2 linked regions of the Homo sapiens genome follow. The protein of the gene in region 1 interacts with the protein of each later gene in a biochemical or structural test. Each region holds a gene or a part of one and is shown in the gene's direction. Other genes may lie near its edges.

What was found. Proteins that work in one complex are often made in the same cells at the same time.
Region 2: the proteins of ETFB (region 1) and ETFRF1 form a complex in vitro, tested with the Homo sapiens proteins (one study listed by BioGRID).

Annotation. Positions count from the first base shown.
Region 1 is NC_000019.10:51,356,389-51,363,409, reverse strand, and holds part of ETFB (electron transfer flavoprotein subunit beta), read left to right. Parts: intron 1-7,021. UniProt on the Homo sapiens protein: Heterodimeric electron transfer flavoprotein that accepts electrons from several mitochondrial dehydrogenases, including acyl-CoA dehydrogenases, glutaryl-CoA and sarcosine dehydrogenase.
Region 2 is NC_000012.12:25,190,506-25,198,257, forward strand, and holds the start of ETFRF1 (electron transfer flavoprotein regulatory factor 1), read left to right. Parts: upstream 1-4,731; 5' UTR 4,732-4,832; exon of another isoform or gene 4,833-4,836; intron 4,837-4,848; exon of another isoform or gene 4,849-7,752. Other genes in the region: DNAI7 (dynein axonemal intermediate chain 7), read right to left, coding at 109-126, 4,381-4,557. UniProt on the Homo sapiens protein: Acts as a regulator of the electron transfer flavoprotein by promoting the removal of flavin from the ETF holoenzyme (composed of ETFA and ETFB).

The DNA of each region.
Region 1 (7,021 bases):
CCCTGACCCTACACCCTCAGGTTGCCTTGGTATATCCCTGGGGGCTTCTGCAGTCCCTAGATTTGCTTCCATCAGCCCTCGCCAGACTGGATTGGGATCCTCTGTTTACCCCATGTTCCCCACTGCCCTACTCCATCATCCCCAGGCTGGTAGCTCCCTGCAGAGAGGGGCCATGTCTGATCCACCTCTGTTCCCAGAATCACGTGCTCACTCCCTGACCTCTTTCACCTCCTTTTCAAACATCACCTTCTCTGGGAGGACTTCCCTGCTTGCCTCCTTAAAATCACAGGCCCCAGGTCCCTGTGTTTTGCTGTGTTTTCCCCTATACTTAGCAACTAGAAAGGGAGAGGAAAGTATGTTTGCTAGAGATGAAAGTTCAAGGAGCCAACCTAACTGAGTGGAGGGAGTGACTCACATTCTCCATGAAGGAGGTGGGAGCAGGGGCACCCTCTGAGAGCCCAGCTTGTCCCCAGAGGGAAGCTGGTGTGGACACTTTGTAATCCACAGTGTTGTTTACTTATTGATTGCTCTGGTGTCTGTCGCCCCTTCTGGAATTTGAGCTCCAGGTGTGGGGGAGACAGTTTGATGTGGTCACTGCTTCCTGAGACAGTGGGTTCACTACTAGAATAGTGCAGACCTCAGACTCCAAGCCCAGCGCCTGCGTCCACTTCCTGCTGTGTGACCTTGAGGAAATTGCTTCACCACTCTAAGCCTCATTTTTCTACTCTGTACAATGGGGATGATGGTACTATCTACTTTATTGAGTTGTAATGAAAATTAAATAAGCCCTTGGAACAGTGCCTGGCACACAGTGGTTTGTTTTGTTTTATTTTTTGAGACGGAGTCTATCTCTGTTGCCCAGGCTGGAGTGCAGTGGCATGATCTCAGCTCACTGGAACCTCCACTTCCCAGGTTCAAGCAACTCTGCCTCAGCCTCCTGAGTAGCTGGGATTACACGTGTGAGCCACCACGCCTGGCTAATTTTTGTATTTTTAGTAGAAACGAGGTTTTGCTATGTTAGCCAGGCTGGTCTAGACCTCCTGACCTCAGGTAATCCACCCGCCTCAGCCTCCCAACGTGCTGGGATTACAGGTGTGAGCCACTGTGACCAGCTGCAATAAGTGTTTTTATTGGGAGTAGTAGTAATGGATGTTTAGTTAGTCATTTATTCAAAACATAACAAATGCTGTGCTCAGAGTGTATTCGTGTGTGTGTGTGTGTGTGTGTGTGTGTGTGTGTGTGTGTGTATGTGTGTCCGGCTGTGTGTATGTTTCTGGGTATGTGCGTGTATCTAACATTTTAATAGGTATTTGGCAACTCAGTAACACCCTGTCCTGTTCAGGGGCACATTTTACAGGAAGCTGATGAAGCTTAACCTTCAGGGCCTCTTTCAAGACCCCAGGAGAAAGGCTGGGCCTGGTGGCTCACGCCTGTAAACACACACTTTGGGAGGCTGAGGTGGGTGGATCACGAGGTCAGGAGTTCAAGACCATCCTAGCCAACAGAGTGAAACTCTGTCTCTACTAAAAATACAAAAATTAGCTGGGCATGGCGGCGCGTGCCCGTAGTCCCAGCTACTCGGGGGGCTGAGGCAGAAGAATCGCTTGAACCAGGGAGGCGGAGGTTGCAGTGAACCGAGATCGTGCCACTGCACTCCAGCCTGGGTGACAGAGGGAGACTCCGTCTCACAAAAAAAAAAAAAAAAAAAAAAACCCAGGAGAGGCTGGGCAATTTTGTATTCATTATCTGGGATTCATTTTCTTAGAGATGACCCCACAGGATAGAAACTCCAGGCCCAGAAAACGTGTTTCCATCTCGGGGCCCAACCCCGACCAGCCACACCCTCTCGTCTGGGAGCGCCTGGTGTTTCTTCAGGTTTTCCTCTTTGGGCTCCACGCACTTGCCCCTCCTGCTCTCAGCAAGGCCACCTTGTCTGACAGGGCACACGTGGGGCTCACATGTCACCTCAGGGACGAGTTCTCTGTCTGCCCCCCGCCGAGTTAGTGATCTGTCACTGGGGTGGCTCCCTGGCCTTGGCTGTCCTGCTTGCTGAGTGCCCTAGCACGTGCCCAGGGACTCGCTTGACAGAAAAGCCTAGAGGACAGAACCACACAAGTCCTTGAGCTGTGTCAGGGGTTCAGGAAGAGCTGTCGAAAATCACTTTATAAAATCCCTCTTGGGCCGGGCGTGGTGGCTCACACCTGTAATTCCAGCATTTTGGGAGGCCGAGGTGGGCGGATCACCTGAGGTCAGGAGTTCGAGACCAGCCTGGCCAACATGACGAAACCCCATCTCTACTAAAAATAAAAAAATTAGCCAGGCGTGGGCCGGGCGCGGTGGCCCACACGTGTAATCTCAGCACTTTGGGAGGCTGAGGCGGGTGGATCACAAGGTTAGGAGATTGAGACCATCCTGGCTAACACGGTGAGACCTTGTCTCTACTAAAAATACAAAAAATTAGCCAGGCGTGGTGGCAGGCGCCTGTAGTCCCAGCTACTGGGGAGGCTGAGGCAGGAGAATCGCTTGAACCCAGAAGGTGGAGTTTGCAGTGAGCCAAGATCATACTACTGCACCCCAGCCTGGGCAACAGAACAAGACTCTGTATCAAAAAGAAAGAGAAAGAGAGAGAGAGAGAGAGAGAGAAAGAGAGAAAGAAAAGAGAAGAGAAGAAAATCCCTCTTGCCTGCAGTGGACAACAAATAGGAAGACTGGCTCTCCTAACACCGTGGGCACACGTAGCCTCTTTCAGAGTCTCACAGTTCCCAAGACAGATTTGGGGTTAGACCCGTGGTCCTGCCACTTCCATGCTCAGTGGCCCTGGCCAAGGTACTTGGCCTCTCTGTGCCTCAGTTGCCTCATCTGTAAAATGAGAGGTAATGGCAGTAACCAACCTCACAGGCTACTAGGATGGTCAAACGAGTTAATGCATATAAAACCCTTGACTCGTTGTCTGCATGGGTCAGTGCTGCTTTTAAAAAAATTTTTTTTTTCTTTTCTTTTTTTTTTTTTGAGATAGAATCTGGTCTGTCACCCAGGCTGGAGTGCATTGATGTGATCCCTGCTCACTGCAACCTCCACCTCCCGGGTTCAAGTGATTCTCCTCCCTCAGCCTCCCAACTAGCTGGAATTACAGGCATGTGCTAAAACGCTCGACTAATTTTTGTATTTTTAGTAGAGATGGGGTTTTACCATGTTGGCCAGGCTGGTCTCGAACTCCTGACCACAAGTGATCCACCCACCTCAGCCCCACAAAGTGCTGGGATTACAGGTGTGAGCCGCCACGCCCAGCTTTGAGGCTGTTTTTGATATTGGTGGATATGTCGTCTCTTTAAGAGAAAGCCAGCACTTAATGCTGAATGATTTACCTCAATTATAAAACTTTTTTTTTTTCTTTTTGAGACAAGGTCTAGCTCTGTCACCCAGGCTAGAGTGGTACAGTCACAGCTCGCTGCAGCCTCGACCCTCCTGGGTTCAAGCCGTCCTCCCACCTCAGCCTCCTCAGTAGCTGGGACTACAGGTGCACGCCACCATGACCTGCTAATTTTGTTTTTTGGTAGAGATGAAGTCTCTCTATGTTGCCCAGGCTGGTCTTGAAATCCTGGGCTCCAGTGATCCTCCTTCCTCAGTCTCCTAAGGTGCTGGGATTACAGGCATGAGCCATCATTATTTAAAAAACAAACAAGCTATCATTTTTCAGCCCTACCATTGTTTCCTGACTTATGTAATATAACTAAACTGTTTTTGAAGCTTAAAATCAACTCAAGCTTAATTGAGAAGATGAGCTAGTTTGTTTCCTCAGGTGTGTGTGCGTGCGTGTGTGTGTGTGTGTCTGGAAAGTTCTTACCCTTTCTCCTCAGGAGTCAGGAGCCTGGGAATCAGGAGCTTAGGGCTGGGAGTTCTGCCAGAGCAAGAGCAAGATGTGGCTTGAGGCCCTTCAGAAGCCTCCCTGACTCACAGCAAGAAGCTTGGGGCCTCTTACTGATGGGTGGATGAGGTTCTTTTCTGTCTTAAAGGGGCAACTCCTATGTTGTGTTTTTTTTTTTAAGAAAAAAGGCCAGGCACTGCGACTCACACCTGTAATCCCATCACTTTGGTAGGCTGAAGCAGGCGGATCACTTTAGGCCAGGAGTTCCAGACCAGCCTGGGAAACACGGGGAAATCCTTTCTCTACAAAAAGTAAAAAAAAAAAAATTAGCCCGGCATGATGGTGCCCGCCTGTGGTCCCAGCTACTGGGGAGGCTGAAGTGGGAGGATCACCTGAGCCCGGGAGGTGGAGGTTGCAGTAAGGCAAGGTGGCACCTCTGCACTCCAGCCTGGGCAACGAGAGAGATGAAAATAACAGTTCTTTCTCTTTCCTCTCCTCTTCCAGCTCCTTCTCCTCTTTCTCCTTTTTCTTTTTCTTTTTCTTTTTTGAGATGAGGTCTTGCTCTGTCACCCAGGTTACATGTAGTGGCATGATCACGGCTCACTGCACCCTTGACCTCCTGGGCTCAGGTGATCCTCCCGCCTCAGCCTCCTGAGTAGCTGGGACTACAGGTGTGTGCCACCATACCTGGCTGTTTTTTTTTTTTTTTTTTTGTTGTTGTTTGTTTGTTTGTTTTGAGGCGGAGTCTTGCTCTGTCGCCCAGGCTGGAGTGCCGTGGCGCAATCTTGGCTCATTACAACCTCCACCTCCTGGGTTCAAGCAATTCTCCCTGCCCCAGCCTCTGAGTAGCTGCAATTACAGGCGTGCACTACCATGCCCGGCTAATTTTTTATTTTATTTTTATTTTTAGTAGAGATGGGGTTTTGCCATGTTGGCCAGGCTGGTCTTGAACTCTTGACCTCAGGTGATCCGCCCACCTTGGCCTCCCAAAGTGCTGGGATTACAGGCATGAGCCACCACGCCCAGCTGTTTTTGTTTTTGTTGTTGTTGTTTGTAGAACCTGTTGCCCAGGCTAGTATCCAACTCCTGGGCACAAGTGATCCTCCCACCTTGGCCTCCCAAATTTCTGGGATTACAGACAGGAGCCACTGCGCCCGGTCTCAGTCCTCCATCTTTTAATGTTACCCTCTCCATGAGGCACAGCCAGAGTGGGAAGCCCCTTATGGGTCCCACCTTCTCATCTCGGATTCTGTCCTGCCTGTGGGAGGAACAGTTACACCCACAGCCCCAGAGAAAAAGGGGCAGGGAAATAGCAAGAGCATCCCAGTGTCCTCACCAGGCTCAGCTGCCACCCGAGATCTGCTCTGGCCAAGCCCTGGGTGGCGGCCACATGGGAGAAGAGGAAGAGGGCAGGCTCCAGGCCAAATGGGGCAGCTCCCTAGCAAGGCTTCTGTGGATGTCCCTGGAGGCTTTTTAAAAATTTGTGCCCCAAACCAAACTCGCCGTCTTCCCGGCTCTGGCTGATGTACTGACTGGAAGCCCCTTTTTGGTGTCATCTTCCCATCACGAACCATGGCCTGTCAGTTGCACCTCCAGAAACCTCTTGCATCTGTCTCTGCTGTCACAGCTGTCTGAGCCACTGTCACCTCTCACTTTGGTGACAAACAGCCACCCAGCTCTCTCCCCACTTCCTCTCATCCTTTTCCAATTTTCTCCACCAAGAATCCAGAATGACCTTATAAAAACTCAGGTTGGGCCAGGAGCGGTGGCTCACGCCTGTAATCCCCTGCCTTTGAGAGGCCGAGGTGGGTGGATCACCAGAGATCGGGAGTTCGAGACCAGCCTGGCCAACATAGTGAAACCCTGTCTCTATTAAAAATACAAAAAATTAGCTGGGCGTGGTGGTGGGCACCTGTAATCACAGCTACTCAGGAGGCTGAGGCAGGAGAATCGCTTGAACTGGGGAGGCAGAGGTTGCAATGAGCTGAGATCATGCCACTGCTCTCCATCCTGGACAACAGAGCAAGACTCCATCTCAAAAAAAAAAAAAAAAAGAAAGAAAGAAAAAAAGGATTGTGGTGGGCCAAGAAATAAAATAGCCCTCCAAAACAGCCAGGTTTCAATCCCTGGCACCTGAGAAGGGGAAATCACTTAGAAACAGGGTCTTTGCAGGCTGGCCATGTTGGCTTATGCCTGTAATCCCAGCACTTTGGGAGGCCGAGGAGAGCAGATCACCTGAGGTCAGGAGTTCAAGACCAGCCTGGCCAACATGGTGAAACCCTGTCTCTACTAAAAATACAAAAATTAGCCAGGCGTGGTGATGCATGCCTGTAATCCCAGCTACTTGGGAGGCTGAGGCAGGCAAATTGCTTGAACCCGGGAGGCAGAGGTTGCAGTGAGCCGAGATTTCACCACTGTACTCCAGCCTGGGCGACAGAGCGAGAGCCCATCTAAAAAAAAAAAAAAAAGAAATTAGAAACAGGGTCTTTGCAGATGTGATTAAATTAAGCATCTTGAGATGGGGGCATTATCCTGGATTATTTAGGTGGGCCCTGAATGCCATCTCAAGAGTCCTTATAAGAGAGAGACAGAGGGAGACTAGACACGCAGAGAGAGGAGAAGGCCACGTGAAGACAGAGCTGAGGATGCTGGCATTGAAGATAAAGCGATGCAGCCACAAGCCAGGGAGTGTCAGCAGAAGCTGGAGGAGGCAAGAAACGTGTTCCTCCCGGGGCCTGCAGACCCCTTGGTCTCACCCTGGTGACACTGACTTTGGACTTCTGGCCTCCAGAGCTGTAAGATTCTAAGCCACCAAATATATGGTGATTTGTTACGGCAGCCGAGAGAAACTAATAGGAGAGTGGTTAGTGGTTCACGCTACACCCTGGTCTACACCGGAAGCCTCTCTCCCTGGCACATGATGGTGTCCCCAGGATCCAGCTCAGAGCCAGGCACACAGTGGGGCCCAGGAGAGACAAAAATGATGTGCAGAAGCAAATGGGTGGGGTTTGCCACCCACCTCCCTTACCTCCCTTGTCTGTTTAGCAAAGAGGTCTTTCATGCTGGTGTTTTCCAAATTAGGTTGTGACCATGTGTGATCATGACATCCAGGCAGAGGGCTGGCATTTTTCCGAAAAAGGGTAGAAAATGTCAGAG
Region 2 (7,752 bases), on another chromosome or scaffold:
AAACTCTACAAACTAAAACTATAAAAATATTTTATAATTCTGTAAATATTCTGTTCATACACTGTAAGTGATTATACAACTATCTATTTTGAAAAAAATTCTACATACCTTTTTTGCTTTGGGACCCTAAAAGTTGGAAAACAAAAGAATTGATCAATTTTAAAGACAATTCTGATACAAAAGTATCATGATTATGTAAGATGTTAAAATTAGAAGAAGCTTGGTAAAGGGCATAAGGGAACTCTCTGTACCATCTTTGTAACTTTCCTTGCAAATCTAAAATTATCCCAAAATAAAATGCTTTTTTAAAAAGAGTTCAGACAAAACTACAAATAAGTATAGAAAAACTAAGTTCACCTACTGAACCATTTTTTTGTATGTAGATTTTACACTGTTTCTTAGGACAATCAATGATCCATGTTTAATGAAATGCCCTGTTACTAAACAGAGTACTAGTCAAGAAGGCACTAGTTTAAAGGGTTCAAAGGACAATAAATCATTGACCAATTATTGGCACTAATGTCAAATTTGCAAGTGTGGGAATGATCTCATAAAGAAATAACCTTTCCGTAAAGTTAGATTGATGATTTTTATAGAAAGGGAATCAGTTATTTAAAGCACGCAAAGTAGCCTCACACGGTGGCTCACTCCTGTAATAGCATTCGCGGAGGCCAAGGCGGGAGGATCACCTGAACCCAAGAGTTCAAGATCAGCCCGGGCAACACAGGAAGACCCCGTCTCTACAAAAAATTTTAAAAATTAGCCAAGCACATGCGTGTGGTCCCAGCTACTTGGGAGGCTGAGGTGGGAAGATCACTTGAGCCCGGGAGGTCAAGGCTGCAGCGAGCCATGACACTCAGCCTGGGCAGCCAAGCGAGACCGCATTTCCAAAAAATGAATAAATAAATAAAACAGGCGGCTGGGTGTGGTGGCTCACACCTGTAATCCCAGGACTTTGGGCGGCTGAGGAAGGTGGATCACGGGGTCAGGAGATGGAGGCCATCCTGGCTAACACGGTGAAACCCCGTCTCTACTAAAAATACAGAAAATTGGCCGGGCATGGTGGCATGTGTCTGTAGTCCCAGCTACTTGGGAGGCTGAGGCAGGAGAGTCGCTTGAACCTGGGAGGCGGAGCTGCAGTAAGCCAACATCGCACCACTGCACTCCAGTCTGGGTGACAGAGCAAGACTCAAAAAATAAACAAATAAATAAATAAATAAAGCAGGTAAAGCTATGATAAAATGAAGATTCTATTCAGCAATGTGTTTTAAGGCAGATCTATTCTTTTCTGGAAATTATTTTGGAAAGCACAGGATTTCAAAAAAGACTCACAGTTACAATAATATCACTTATACTTTCCTGATTAGGCTCATGTGTTTATCAGATTTCTGGTAAGGAATTTATAGGAGATCATGTGAACATAAGACACTTTACATATTTGAAGAGTTATACATGGGAAATATTAGTTCAACCCATAAGATTATACTGTGTAAAACTGAAGTTTAACACATATCAGTAGATTCCATCTTCTTGAAGAGTGCATATATTACACTAATTCACTCGGCAGATATTAATTAATGATTTACACACAAGGCAATCTGAGGCACTGGAGATAGAAAAGTAGAGACTTTGCTGCCATATAATTTTTACAAATAGATTCTATTTTTATCATAGCTTCTATCAATTAATAGTTAACATACTTCCATCGTGAAATAAGTACTAAACAGCTGAATATGTAAATAGCATTGCTCCAGTTCTCAATTAGCCATATTTTAAAGAGGGGCAAATTGTCACTTCTCACTTGTGCTTTTAATGTAAATCAGGTTTGGGGTAAGTACATATCCTCATTTCTCCTATATGTCATAATAGCCACTATGTAGTGAAGTAGTTCTCAAAGTTCAGAGGGCATAAGAATCATATGGGAAGCTTGTTAGAAATGCATATTTATGGACTAAACGTGTGTATGCTCACTTCTCTTCCTACACTGTGGTTTAGTAGATGTTATGGGCTGAATTGTATTGCTCAAAAAATTACATGTTGTCCGGGTGCGGTGGCTCACAGCTGTAATCCCAGCACTTTGGGAGGCCGAGGCAGGGGGATCACCTGAGGTCAAGACCAGCCTGGCCAACATGGTGACACCTCGTTTCTACTAAAAATACAAAAATTAGCTGGGCGTGGTGGCATGCACCTGTAATCCCAGCTACTCGGGAGGCTGAGGCAGGAGAATCGCTTGAAGGAGAATCGCTTGAACCCGGGAGGCAGAGGTTTCAGTAAGCCGAGATCGCGCCATTGCATTCCAGCCTGGGCAACAGAGCGAAACTCTGCCTCAAAAAAAAAAAAAAAAAAAAAAATCATATGTTGGCTGGGTGCACTGGCTTACTCCTGTAATCCCAGCATTTTGGGAGGTCAAAGTGGGAGAATCACTTGAGCCCAGGAGTTTGAGGGCAGCCTGGGCAACAAAGCAAGACCCTGTCTAAAAAAATTTAAAAATTAGCTGGGTGTGGTGGCACGTGCCTTGTACTCCCAGCTATTCAGGAGGCTGAGTTGGGAAGATTGCTTGAACCAGGGAGGCTGAGACTTCGATAAGCCATGATGGTGACACTGCATTGCAGCCTAGGTGACAAAGCGAGACAGTCTCAAAAAGAAAAAAAAAAAAGAAAAAAAATTCATACGTTGAAATTCTGATCCCCAGTACTTCAGAATTTGATCTAATTGGAGACAGGGTCACTGCTGATTTTATTAGTTAAATTAAGATGAAGCCATACTGAATAGGGTGGGCCCCTAATCCAATATGATTTGTGTCCTTATATAATAATAATTTTAATATACTCAGATGGAGAATGCCATGTGAAGAATGAAGTTTTGTTGCCACAAACCAAGAAACTACTAGAAGCCAGGAAAGGTCTGAACAGATCTCTCCCTAAGGCCCTCAGAGGTATCACAGACCTGCTGACACTTTGATCTTGGACTTCTAGTCTCCAGAACTACGAGACAATAAATTTCTTTTCTTTAACCACTCAGTTTGTGGCAATTCCTTACTTGGCAGACTTAGGAAACTAATACAGTAGATTTGGAGTTGAGTGGGTTCCTGGAATCTGCATTTTTAACAAGTACTCCGGGTGCATTAGAAATAAATGTTCCATGGGCCACACTTTGAGAAACATTGGGAGAAGGATCTAAGAAGAAGAAGAAACTCAGGTAACAAATTGGAAGGTAACAAGTAAGTGCTTACTGTTCCCCCAATTTATTAGCAATTATAAATTGACTTAAGGTCCATTTGCATTCCGCCAGGAATGCTCTCCACTCCCTATTTCTTTTTTTCTCTTTTTTTTTTGAGACGGAGTCTCGCTCTGTCACCCAGGCTGGAGTGCAGTGGCACAATCTCGGCTCACTGCAACCTCCGCCTCCCAGGTTCAAGCGATTCTCTTGCTTCAGCCCCCTGAGTAGCTGGAATTACAGGTGCGCGCCAACACGCCCGGCTAATTTTTGTATTTTTAGTAGAGACTGGGTTTCACCATGTTGACCAGGCTGGTCTCGAACTCCTGACATCGTGATCTGCCCGCCTCGGCCTCCCAAAGTGCTGGGATTACAGGGGTGAGCCACCGCGCCAGGCCTCCACTCCCTATTTCTTCCCACCATATGTGGAAAACTCGTATTTATACTTTAAAACAGGTTGAAAAGCACCACTCTCCTTCCCTTGTTTCCCCTCACTGAAATTTCATCATTTCCAACTGTGTGTTACCCCATTTTAGATGCTTCAATTGTTACAGTTGTAAAGCTGTATTGTAATTAATTTGTTTAATCTGTATCCTATAAGCAGAGTTGTCGTCATGTTCTTCTTGGTATTCTTGGCTTCTAGCCCAGTGCCAAGTACAAAGAATGCACTCCACATTTTTCCCTTAATTAATGAATTAAATAAGTAATTACATTCTCCACTTCCTCTGGTTTTAATTATAGAAAATGTCTTGATGGAAACCACATTTAAGAAAATCAGAGATACTCTCATAGCTACATGTTGGCCTGTCTCCTTGCTGAAAACATGGCAGTTGAGGAGTGCAGAAAAACAAAATGAGAAGCCTTATCATATTTAACTAATGCAGGATGAGAACCTTGAATCACAAAACAATTCATATTCCCACAAAAGACGACATAAAATATTTTTTCAAAGCAGAGTAAATTGCATTAGCTTTTAATTAACTGCTGGAGAAGTACTAAAACATTTCCGCCAAGTTGCAATAAGAAAATTTAGTGGGAACGTCTATCACTACTGAAAGTTACTAGGTTGGGACCAATTTTCAAGCTTAGCAACATTCGAGATCAGGATACCGTGTGACAGCTTTGACCATCTCCCGTTTGCAGAAACTGGTTTGGGACTCCTACCTGTCCGCCTGGTCCAGGTAAGGAAAGCCATTGCTGAGAAGAGGGCCGACCCACCCCAAGGTATGAGTTATTTCCCAAACCGACCCGCTTCGCTGTAAAATATGACTGGCTCTTGATTACATTATTTAACACTGGTGAAGCAGAATCAGTGGTCGCCCCTCCACCTGTCTGCCTCATTTGCCTTGCTCACCATTAAGAGTCAAGCTCCACTGCAGTAGTCCGCAGAGTCGGAGCAGAAATTGTGTGGACAAACGCTCCCGGGTTGCCCGGACGACAGGCCCCGCCCACTTGAGCTCCAGGAAAAGAGCGCAGCCGCGCGGAGGCTCTTCCGGCCGGCGCCCCGCCCCCTTTACTGACAGGTTGCCCACCTCCCCCAACGCCACCCCGCTTCGCAGTAGACGGACAGAGGAGTCGTAGCGGTCGAGGCTTTTGCGGCTCCGGCGTGCCGGAAAGTGCGTGAGTGCCGCCGCCGGGGAGTTTTGTTCCATTTCCCGGATCCTGGGGTCTGGAGGCGAAATATGCTCTGGGCGAGGACCACCGGGTGTGGGAAGAGGGTTCTGAGCGTCTCCTGACGTTGACGGTTTATTTCCTAGAGTGTGTTGGGTCTTTCTGTGAGGGTTTCGAGAAGGAAACAGGCATGCGACTGGTTCATGCAGCGGACACCCGGTGGGAGGCCTGGGCCTCTGCGGTTTAATCCAGCAGGGGGATGGGGCTCATTCCGCAATTTAAAGAGAGAAATAAGTTGGCTCCAGAGGGTTGGTTATTTTAAGATTAATGACCTTCGGATTCTTCTTTCTGCTCTATTGTTTACTTTCTGTGCAGCGTACGCGTCCTTTTTCCTAAGAGCGCCCTAAACAAGAATTGAAAATGAAGCAATTCCTGGCTAAAATATTCCTTAACATGAAGATCGCTGAGGCCCCAAAGACTCATTAGTTTCCCGAGGTCACAGACTAATTTTACTAACCACACAACCTTTAGAATTTCAGTCTCCTCCCACATGAAGAAACGCCGGCACCTTACACCGACAGGAAAACTACAATTAAGTGAGGCTGTTCTCCTCAAGCCCGACTGAGTTCTCTGTAATTGTAGGGCATACCTACACCCTGTTTTAGCATTATGAGACCTGAAATACTTTTAAATTACTGGCACCATTTCTCATCTCTGAATTATAAGTTTATAATGCTCTATCCCTTCCAGTGTTATTGACTACATGCATTATTCATAGATAAGTAGTAGGACTAAGCTAGTCTTTGTGGGTTAAAGTGTTATTATCCCTATTGTAACCTGTAACTATTATAGGTTGTGTAATAGTTATTAGCATTTTACATCCATATCCTGGTAGCAAGATAAAAACATTTTAATAGCGACTTCGTACAGAGTTCTTACTCAGTTTACCATAGCTGTTTGATATGAAAGTTAAGGCTTCCTTTTAAATTAGTTTCAGTAAAACTAATGTTTAATGATAAAACACCTCAGTCAACTCAAGTTAGGATTCATCGGGGTAAGGAGATAGTTCAGTAATCCCAAGTTACCTTAAAATAGTGGGCTTTTAGAGGAAAGGCTTTACTGAAGCTCTCACTGTATCTACCCCATGGGGAACAATGATTAACAACTTTGGCCACCACATAACCCCCAGTAAAATGACAATTTTCCATTAGCCTGGAACTGGAACTGGTTAAGTCCTAACTCCTTAGCCTAGAATGACAGGGGGAAAAAACTATCAATGGGGACTGCAACCGCTGTCTCATCCAGCGCACACATCCAAGTTTTCAGAATAATAGGGGGCTTCTCTTAGTCCTTAACTCTTGGCTCTTTACTTAAAACAGTAACCTCCATGACTTCATGCAGAGTTCAGGAGCAGCCTCAGGGCCCTGCTGAACTCAAAATTGTTTATTCACTACATTGTGAACCCAAGGAGACCTATTTCTCTTAGTGGCTAAAGTAAACCTAAATGCTTCAAGGTCAACTGCATAAAGATAAACTGCATTGCCTGGTGTGGTGGCTCACGCCTGTAATCCCAGCATTTTGAGAGGCCAAAGTGGGTGGATCACGAGGTCTGGAGATGGAGACCATCCTGGATAACACAGTGAAACCCCGTCTCTACTAAAATAATACAAAAAATTAGCCGGGCGTGGTGATCAGCACCTGTAATCCCAGCTGCTCTGGAGGCTGAGACGGGAATCGCTTGAACCCGGGAGAGGGAGGTTGCAGTGAGCCAAGATCGCACCACTACACTCCAGCCGGGTCAACAGAGCAAGACTCCGTCTCAAAAAAAAAAAAAGATAAACTGCATTAATTCATATAAGTTAACATATCAAAGAAGAACAAATTTGCCATAGCCACACTAGTTACATTTTTGCTGGGCAAGTGTTTTATGATACATAATTTGTAAAAAGACCAACAACTAAAAAGGACAACTTAAGCCAGGTCCCTGAAAGCTTTCACAAGTTACAAATTGTGAATTAAATGAAGCTGTGCTGTTAGGCATTAAACAGGTTATAGTTTGCAATTCGAAATTACATCTATGTATATTTAATTTTAAATTATGTGAAAAGAACATGGTTCCGAAGAGGTGTTTTTTGTTTGTTTTGTTTTGAGACAGGGTCTCAAAATGAATTTTGCCCAGGTTGGAGTGGTGGAACAATCACGGCTCACTACAGCCTCAACCTCCTGGGCTCAAGCGATCCTCCCACCTCAGCCTCTCAAATAGCTGAGACTACAGGCACACGCCACCATGCCTGGCTAATATTTTTTTACTTTTAGTAGAGACAAGGTCTCACTCACTATGTTGCCCAGGCTGGTCTCAAACTCCTGAGCTCAAGCCATCCTCCAGCCCTGGCCTCCCAAAGTGCTGAGATTACAGGTACAAGCCACCATGCCCAGCCTAAGAATCATTCTTAGTAAGATTATTTCACGCTGCTAATGGCTCTCTGCCAAAAGAAAAAAAAGGAAGTTTAAAGAATGAAGTAGTTAATATAGTGGGTTAAATACCCTCATCTAATTTTACTCCCTTCCAAAACTACTAAATCTACAGTAAAATGATATAAAAATAAATTGGAAAAATGGGGACAGGAGGTAACAGCAATAAAACTCAGAAGCTGGAAAACAGGTGAATGAATGTGACTTAGCACACCAGAAAAACCCAATTCACTCTGCAGAATTCTCAAAAGGCACTGAAACACGCACCCTGAAATTGGAAGTGGACTACATGAAAGCTATTTGAGAAACACCTCTAAGTAACTCTACCCCCTTACTCCCATAGAAGACTAGAGGTTTATTTCTGGACAAAGTAATACTAGTCCCTGGACTGGGGCATCCTCAGGCATTCTAGAGAAGCACACTGGAAACAAAGTTAAGTGAATTTAGGAATAC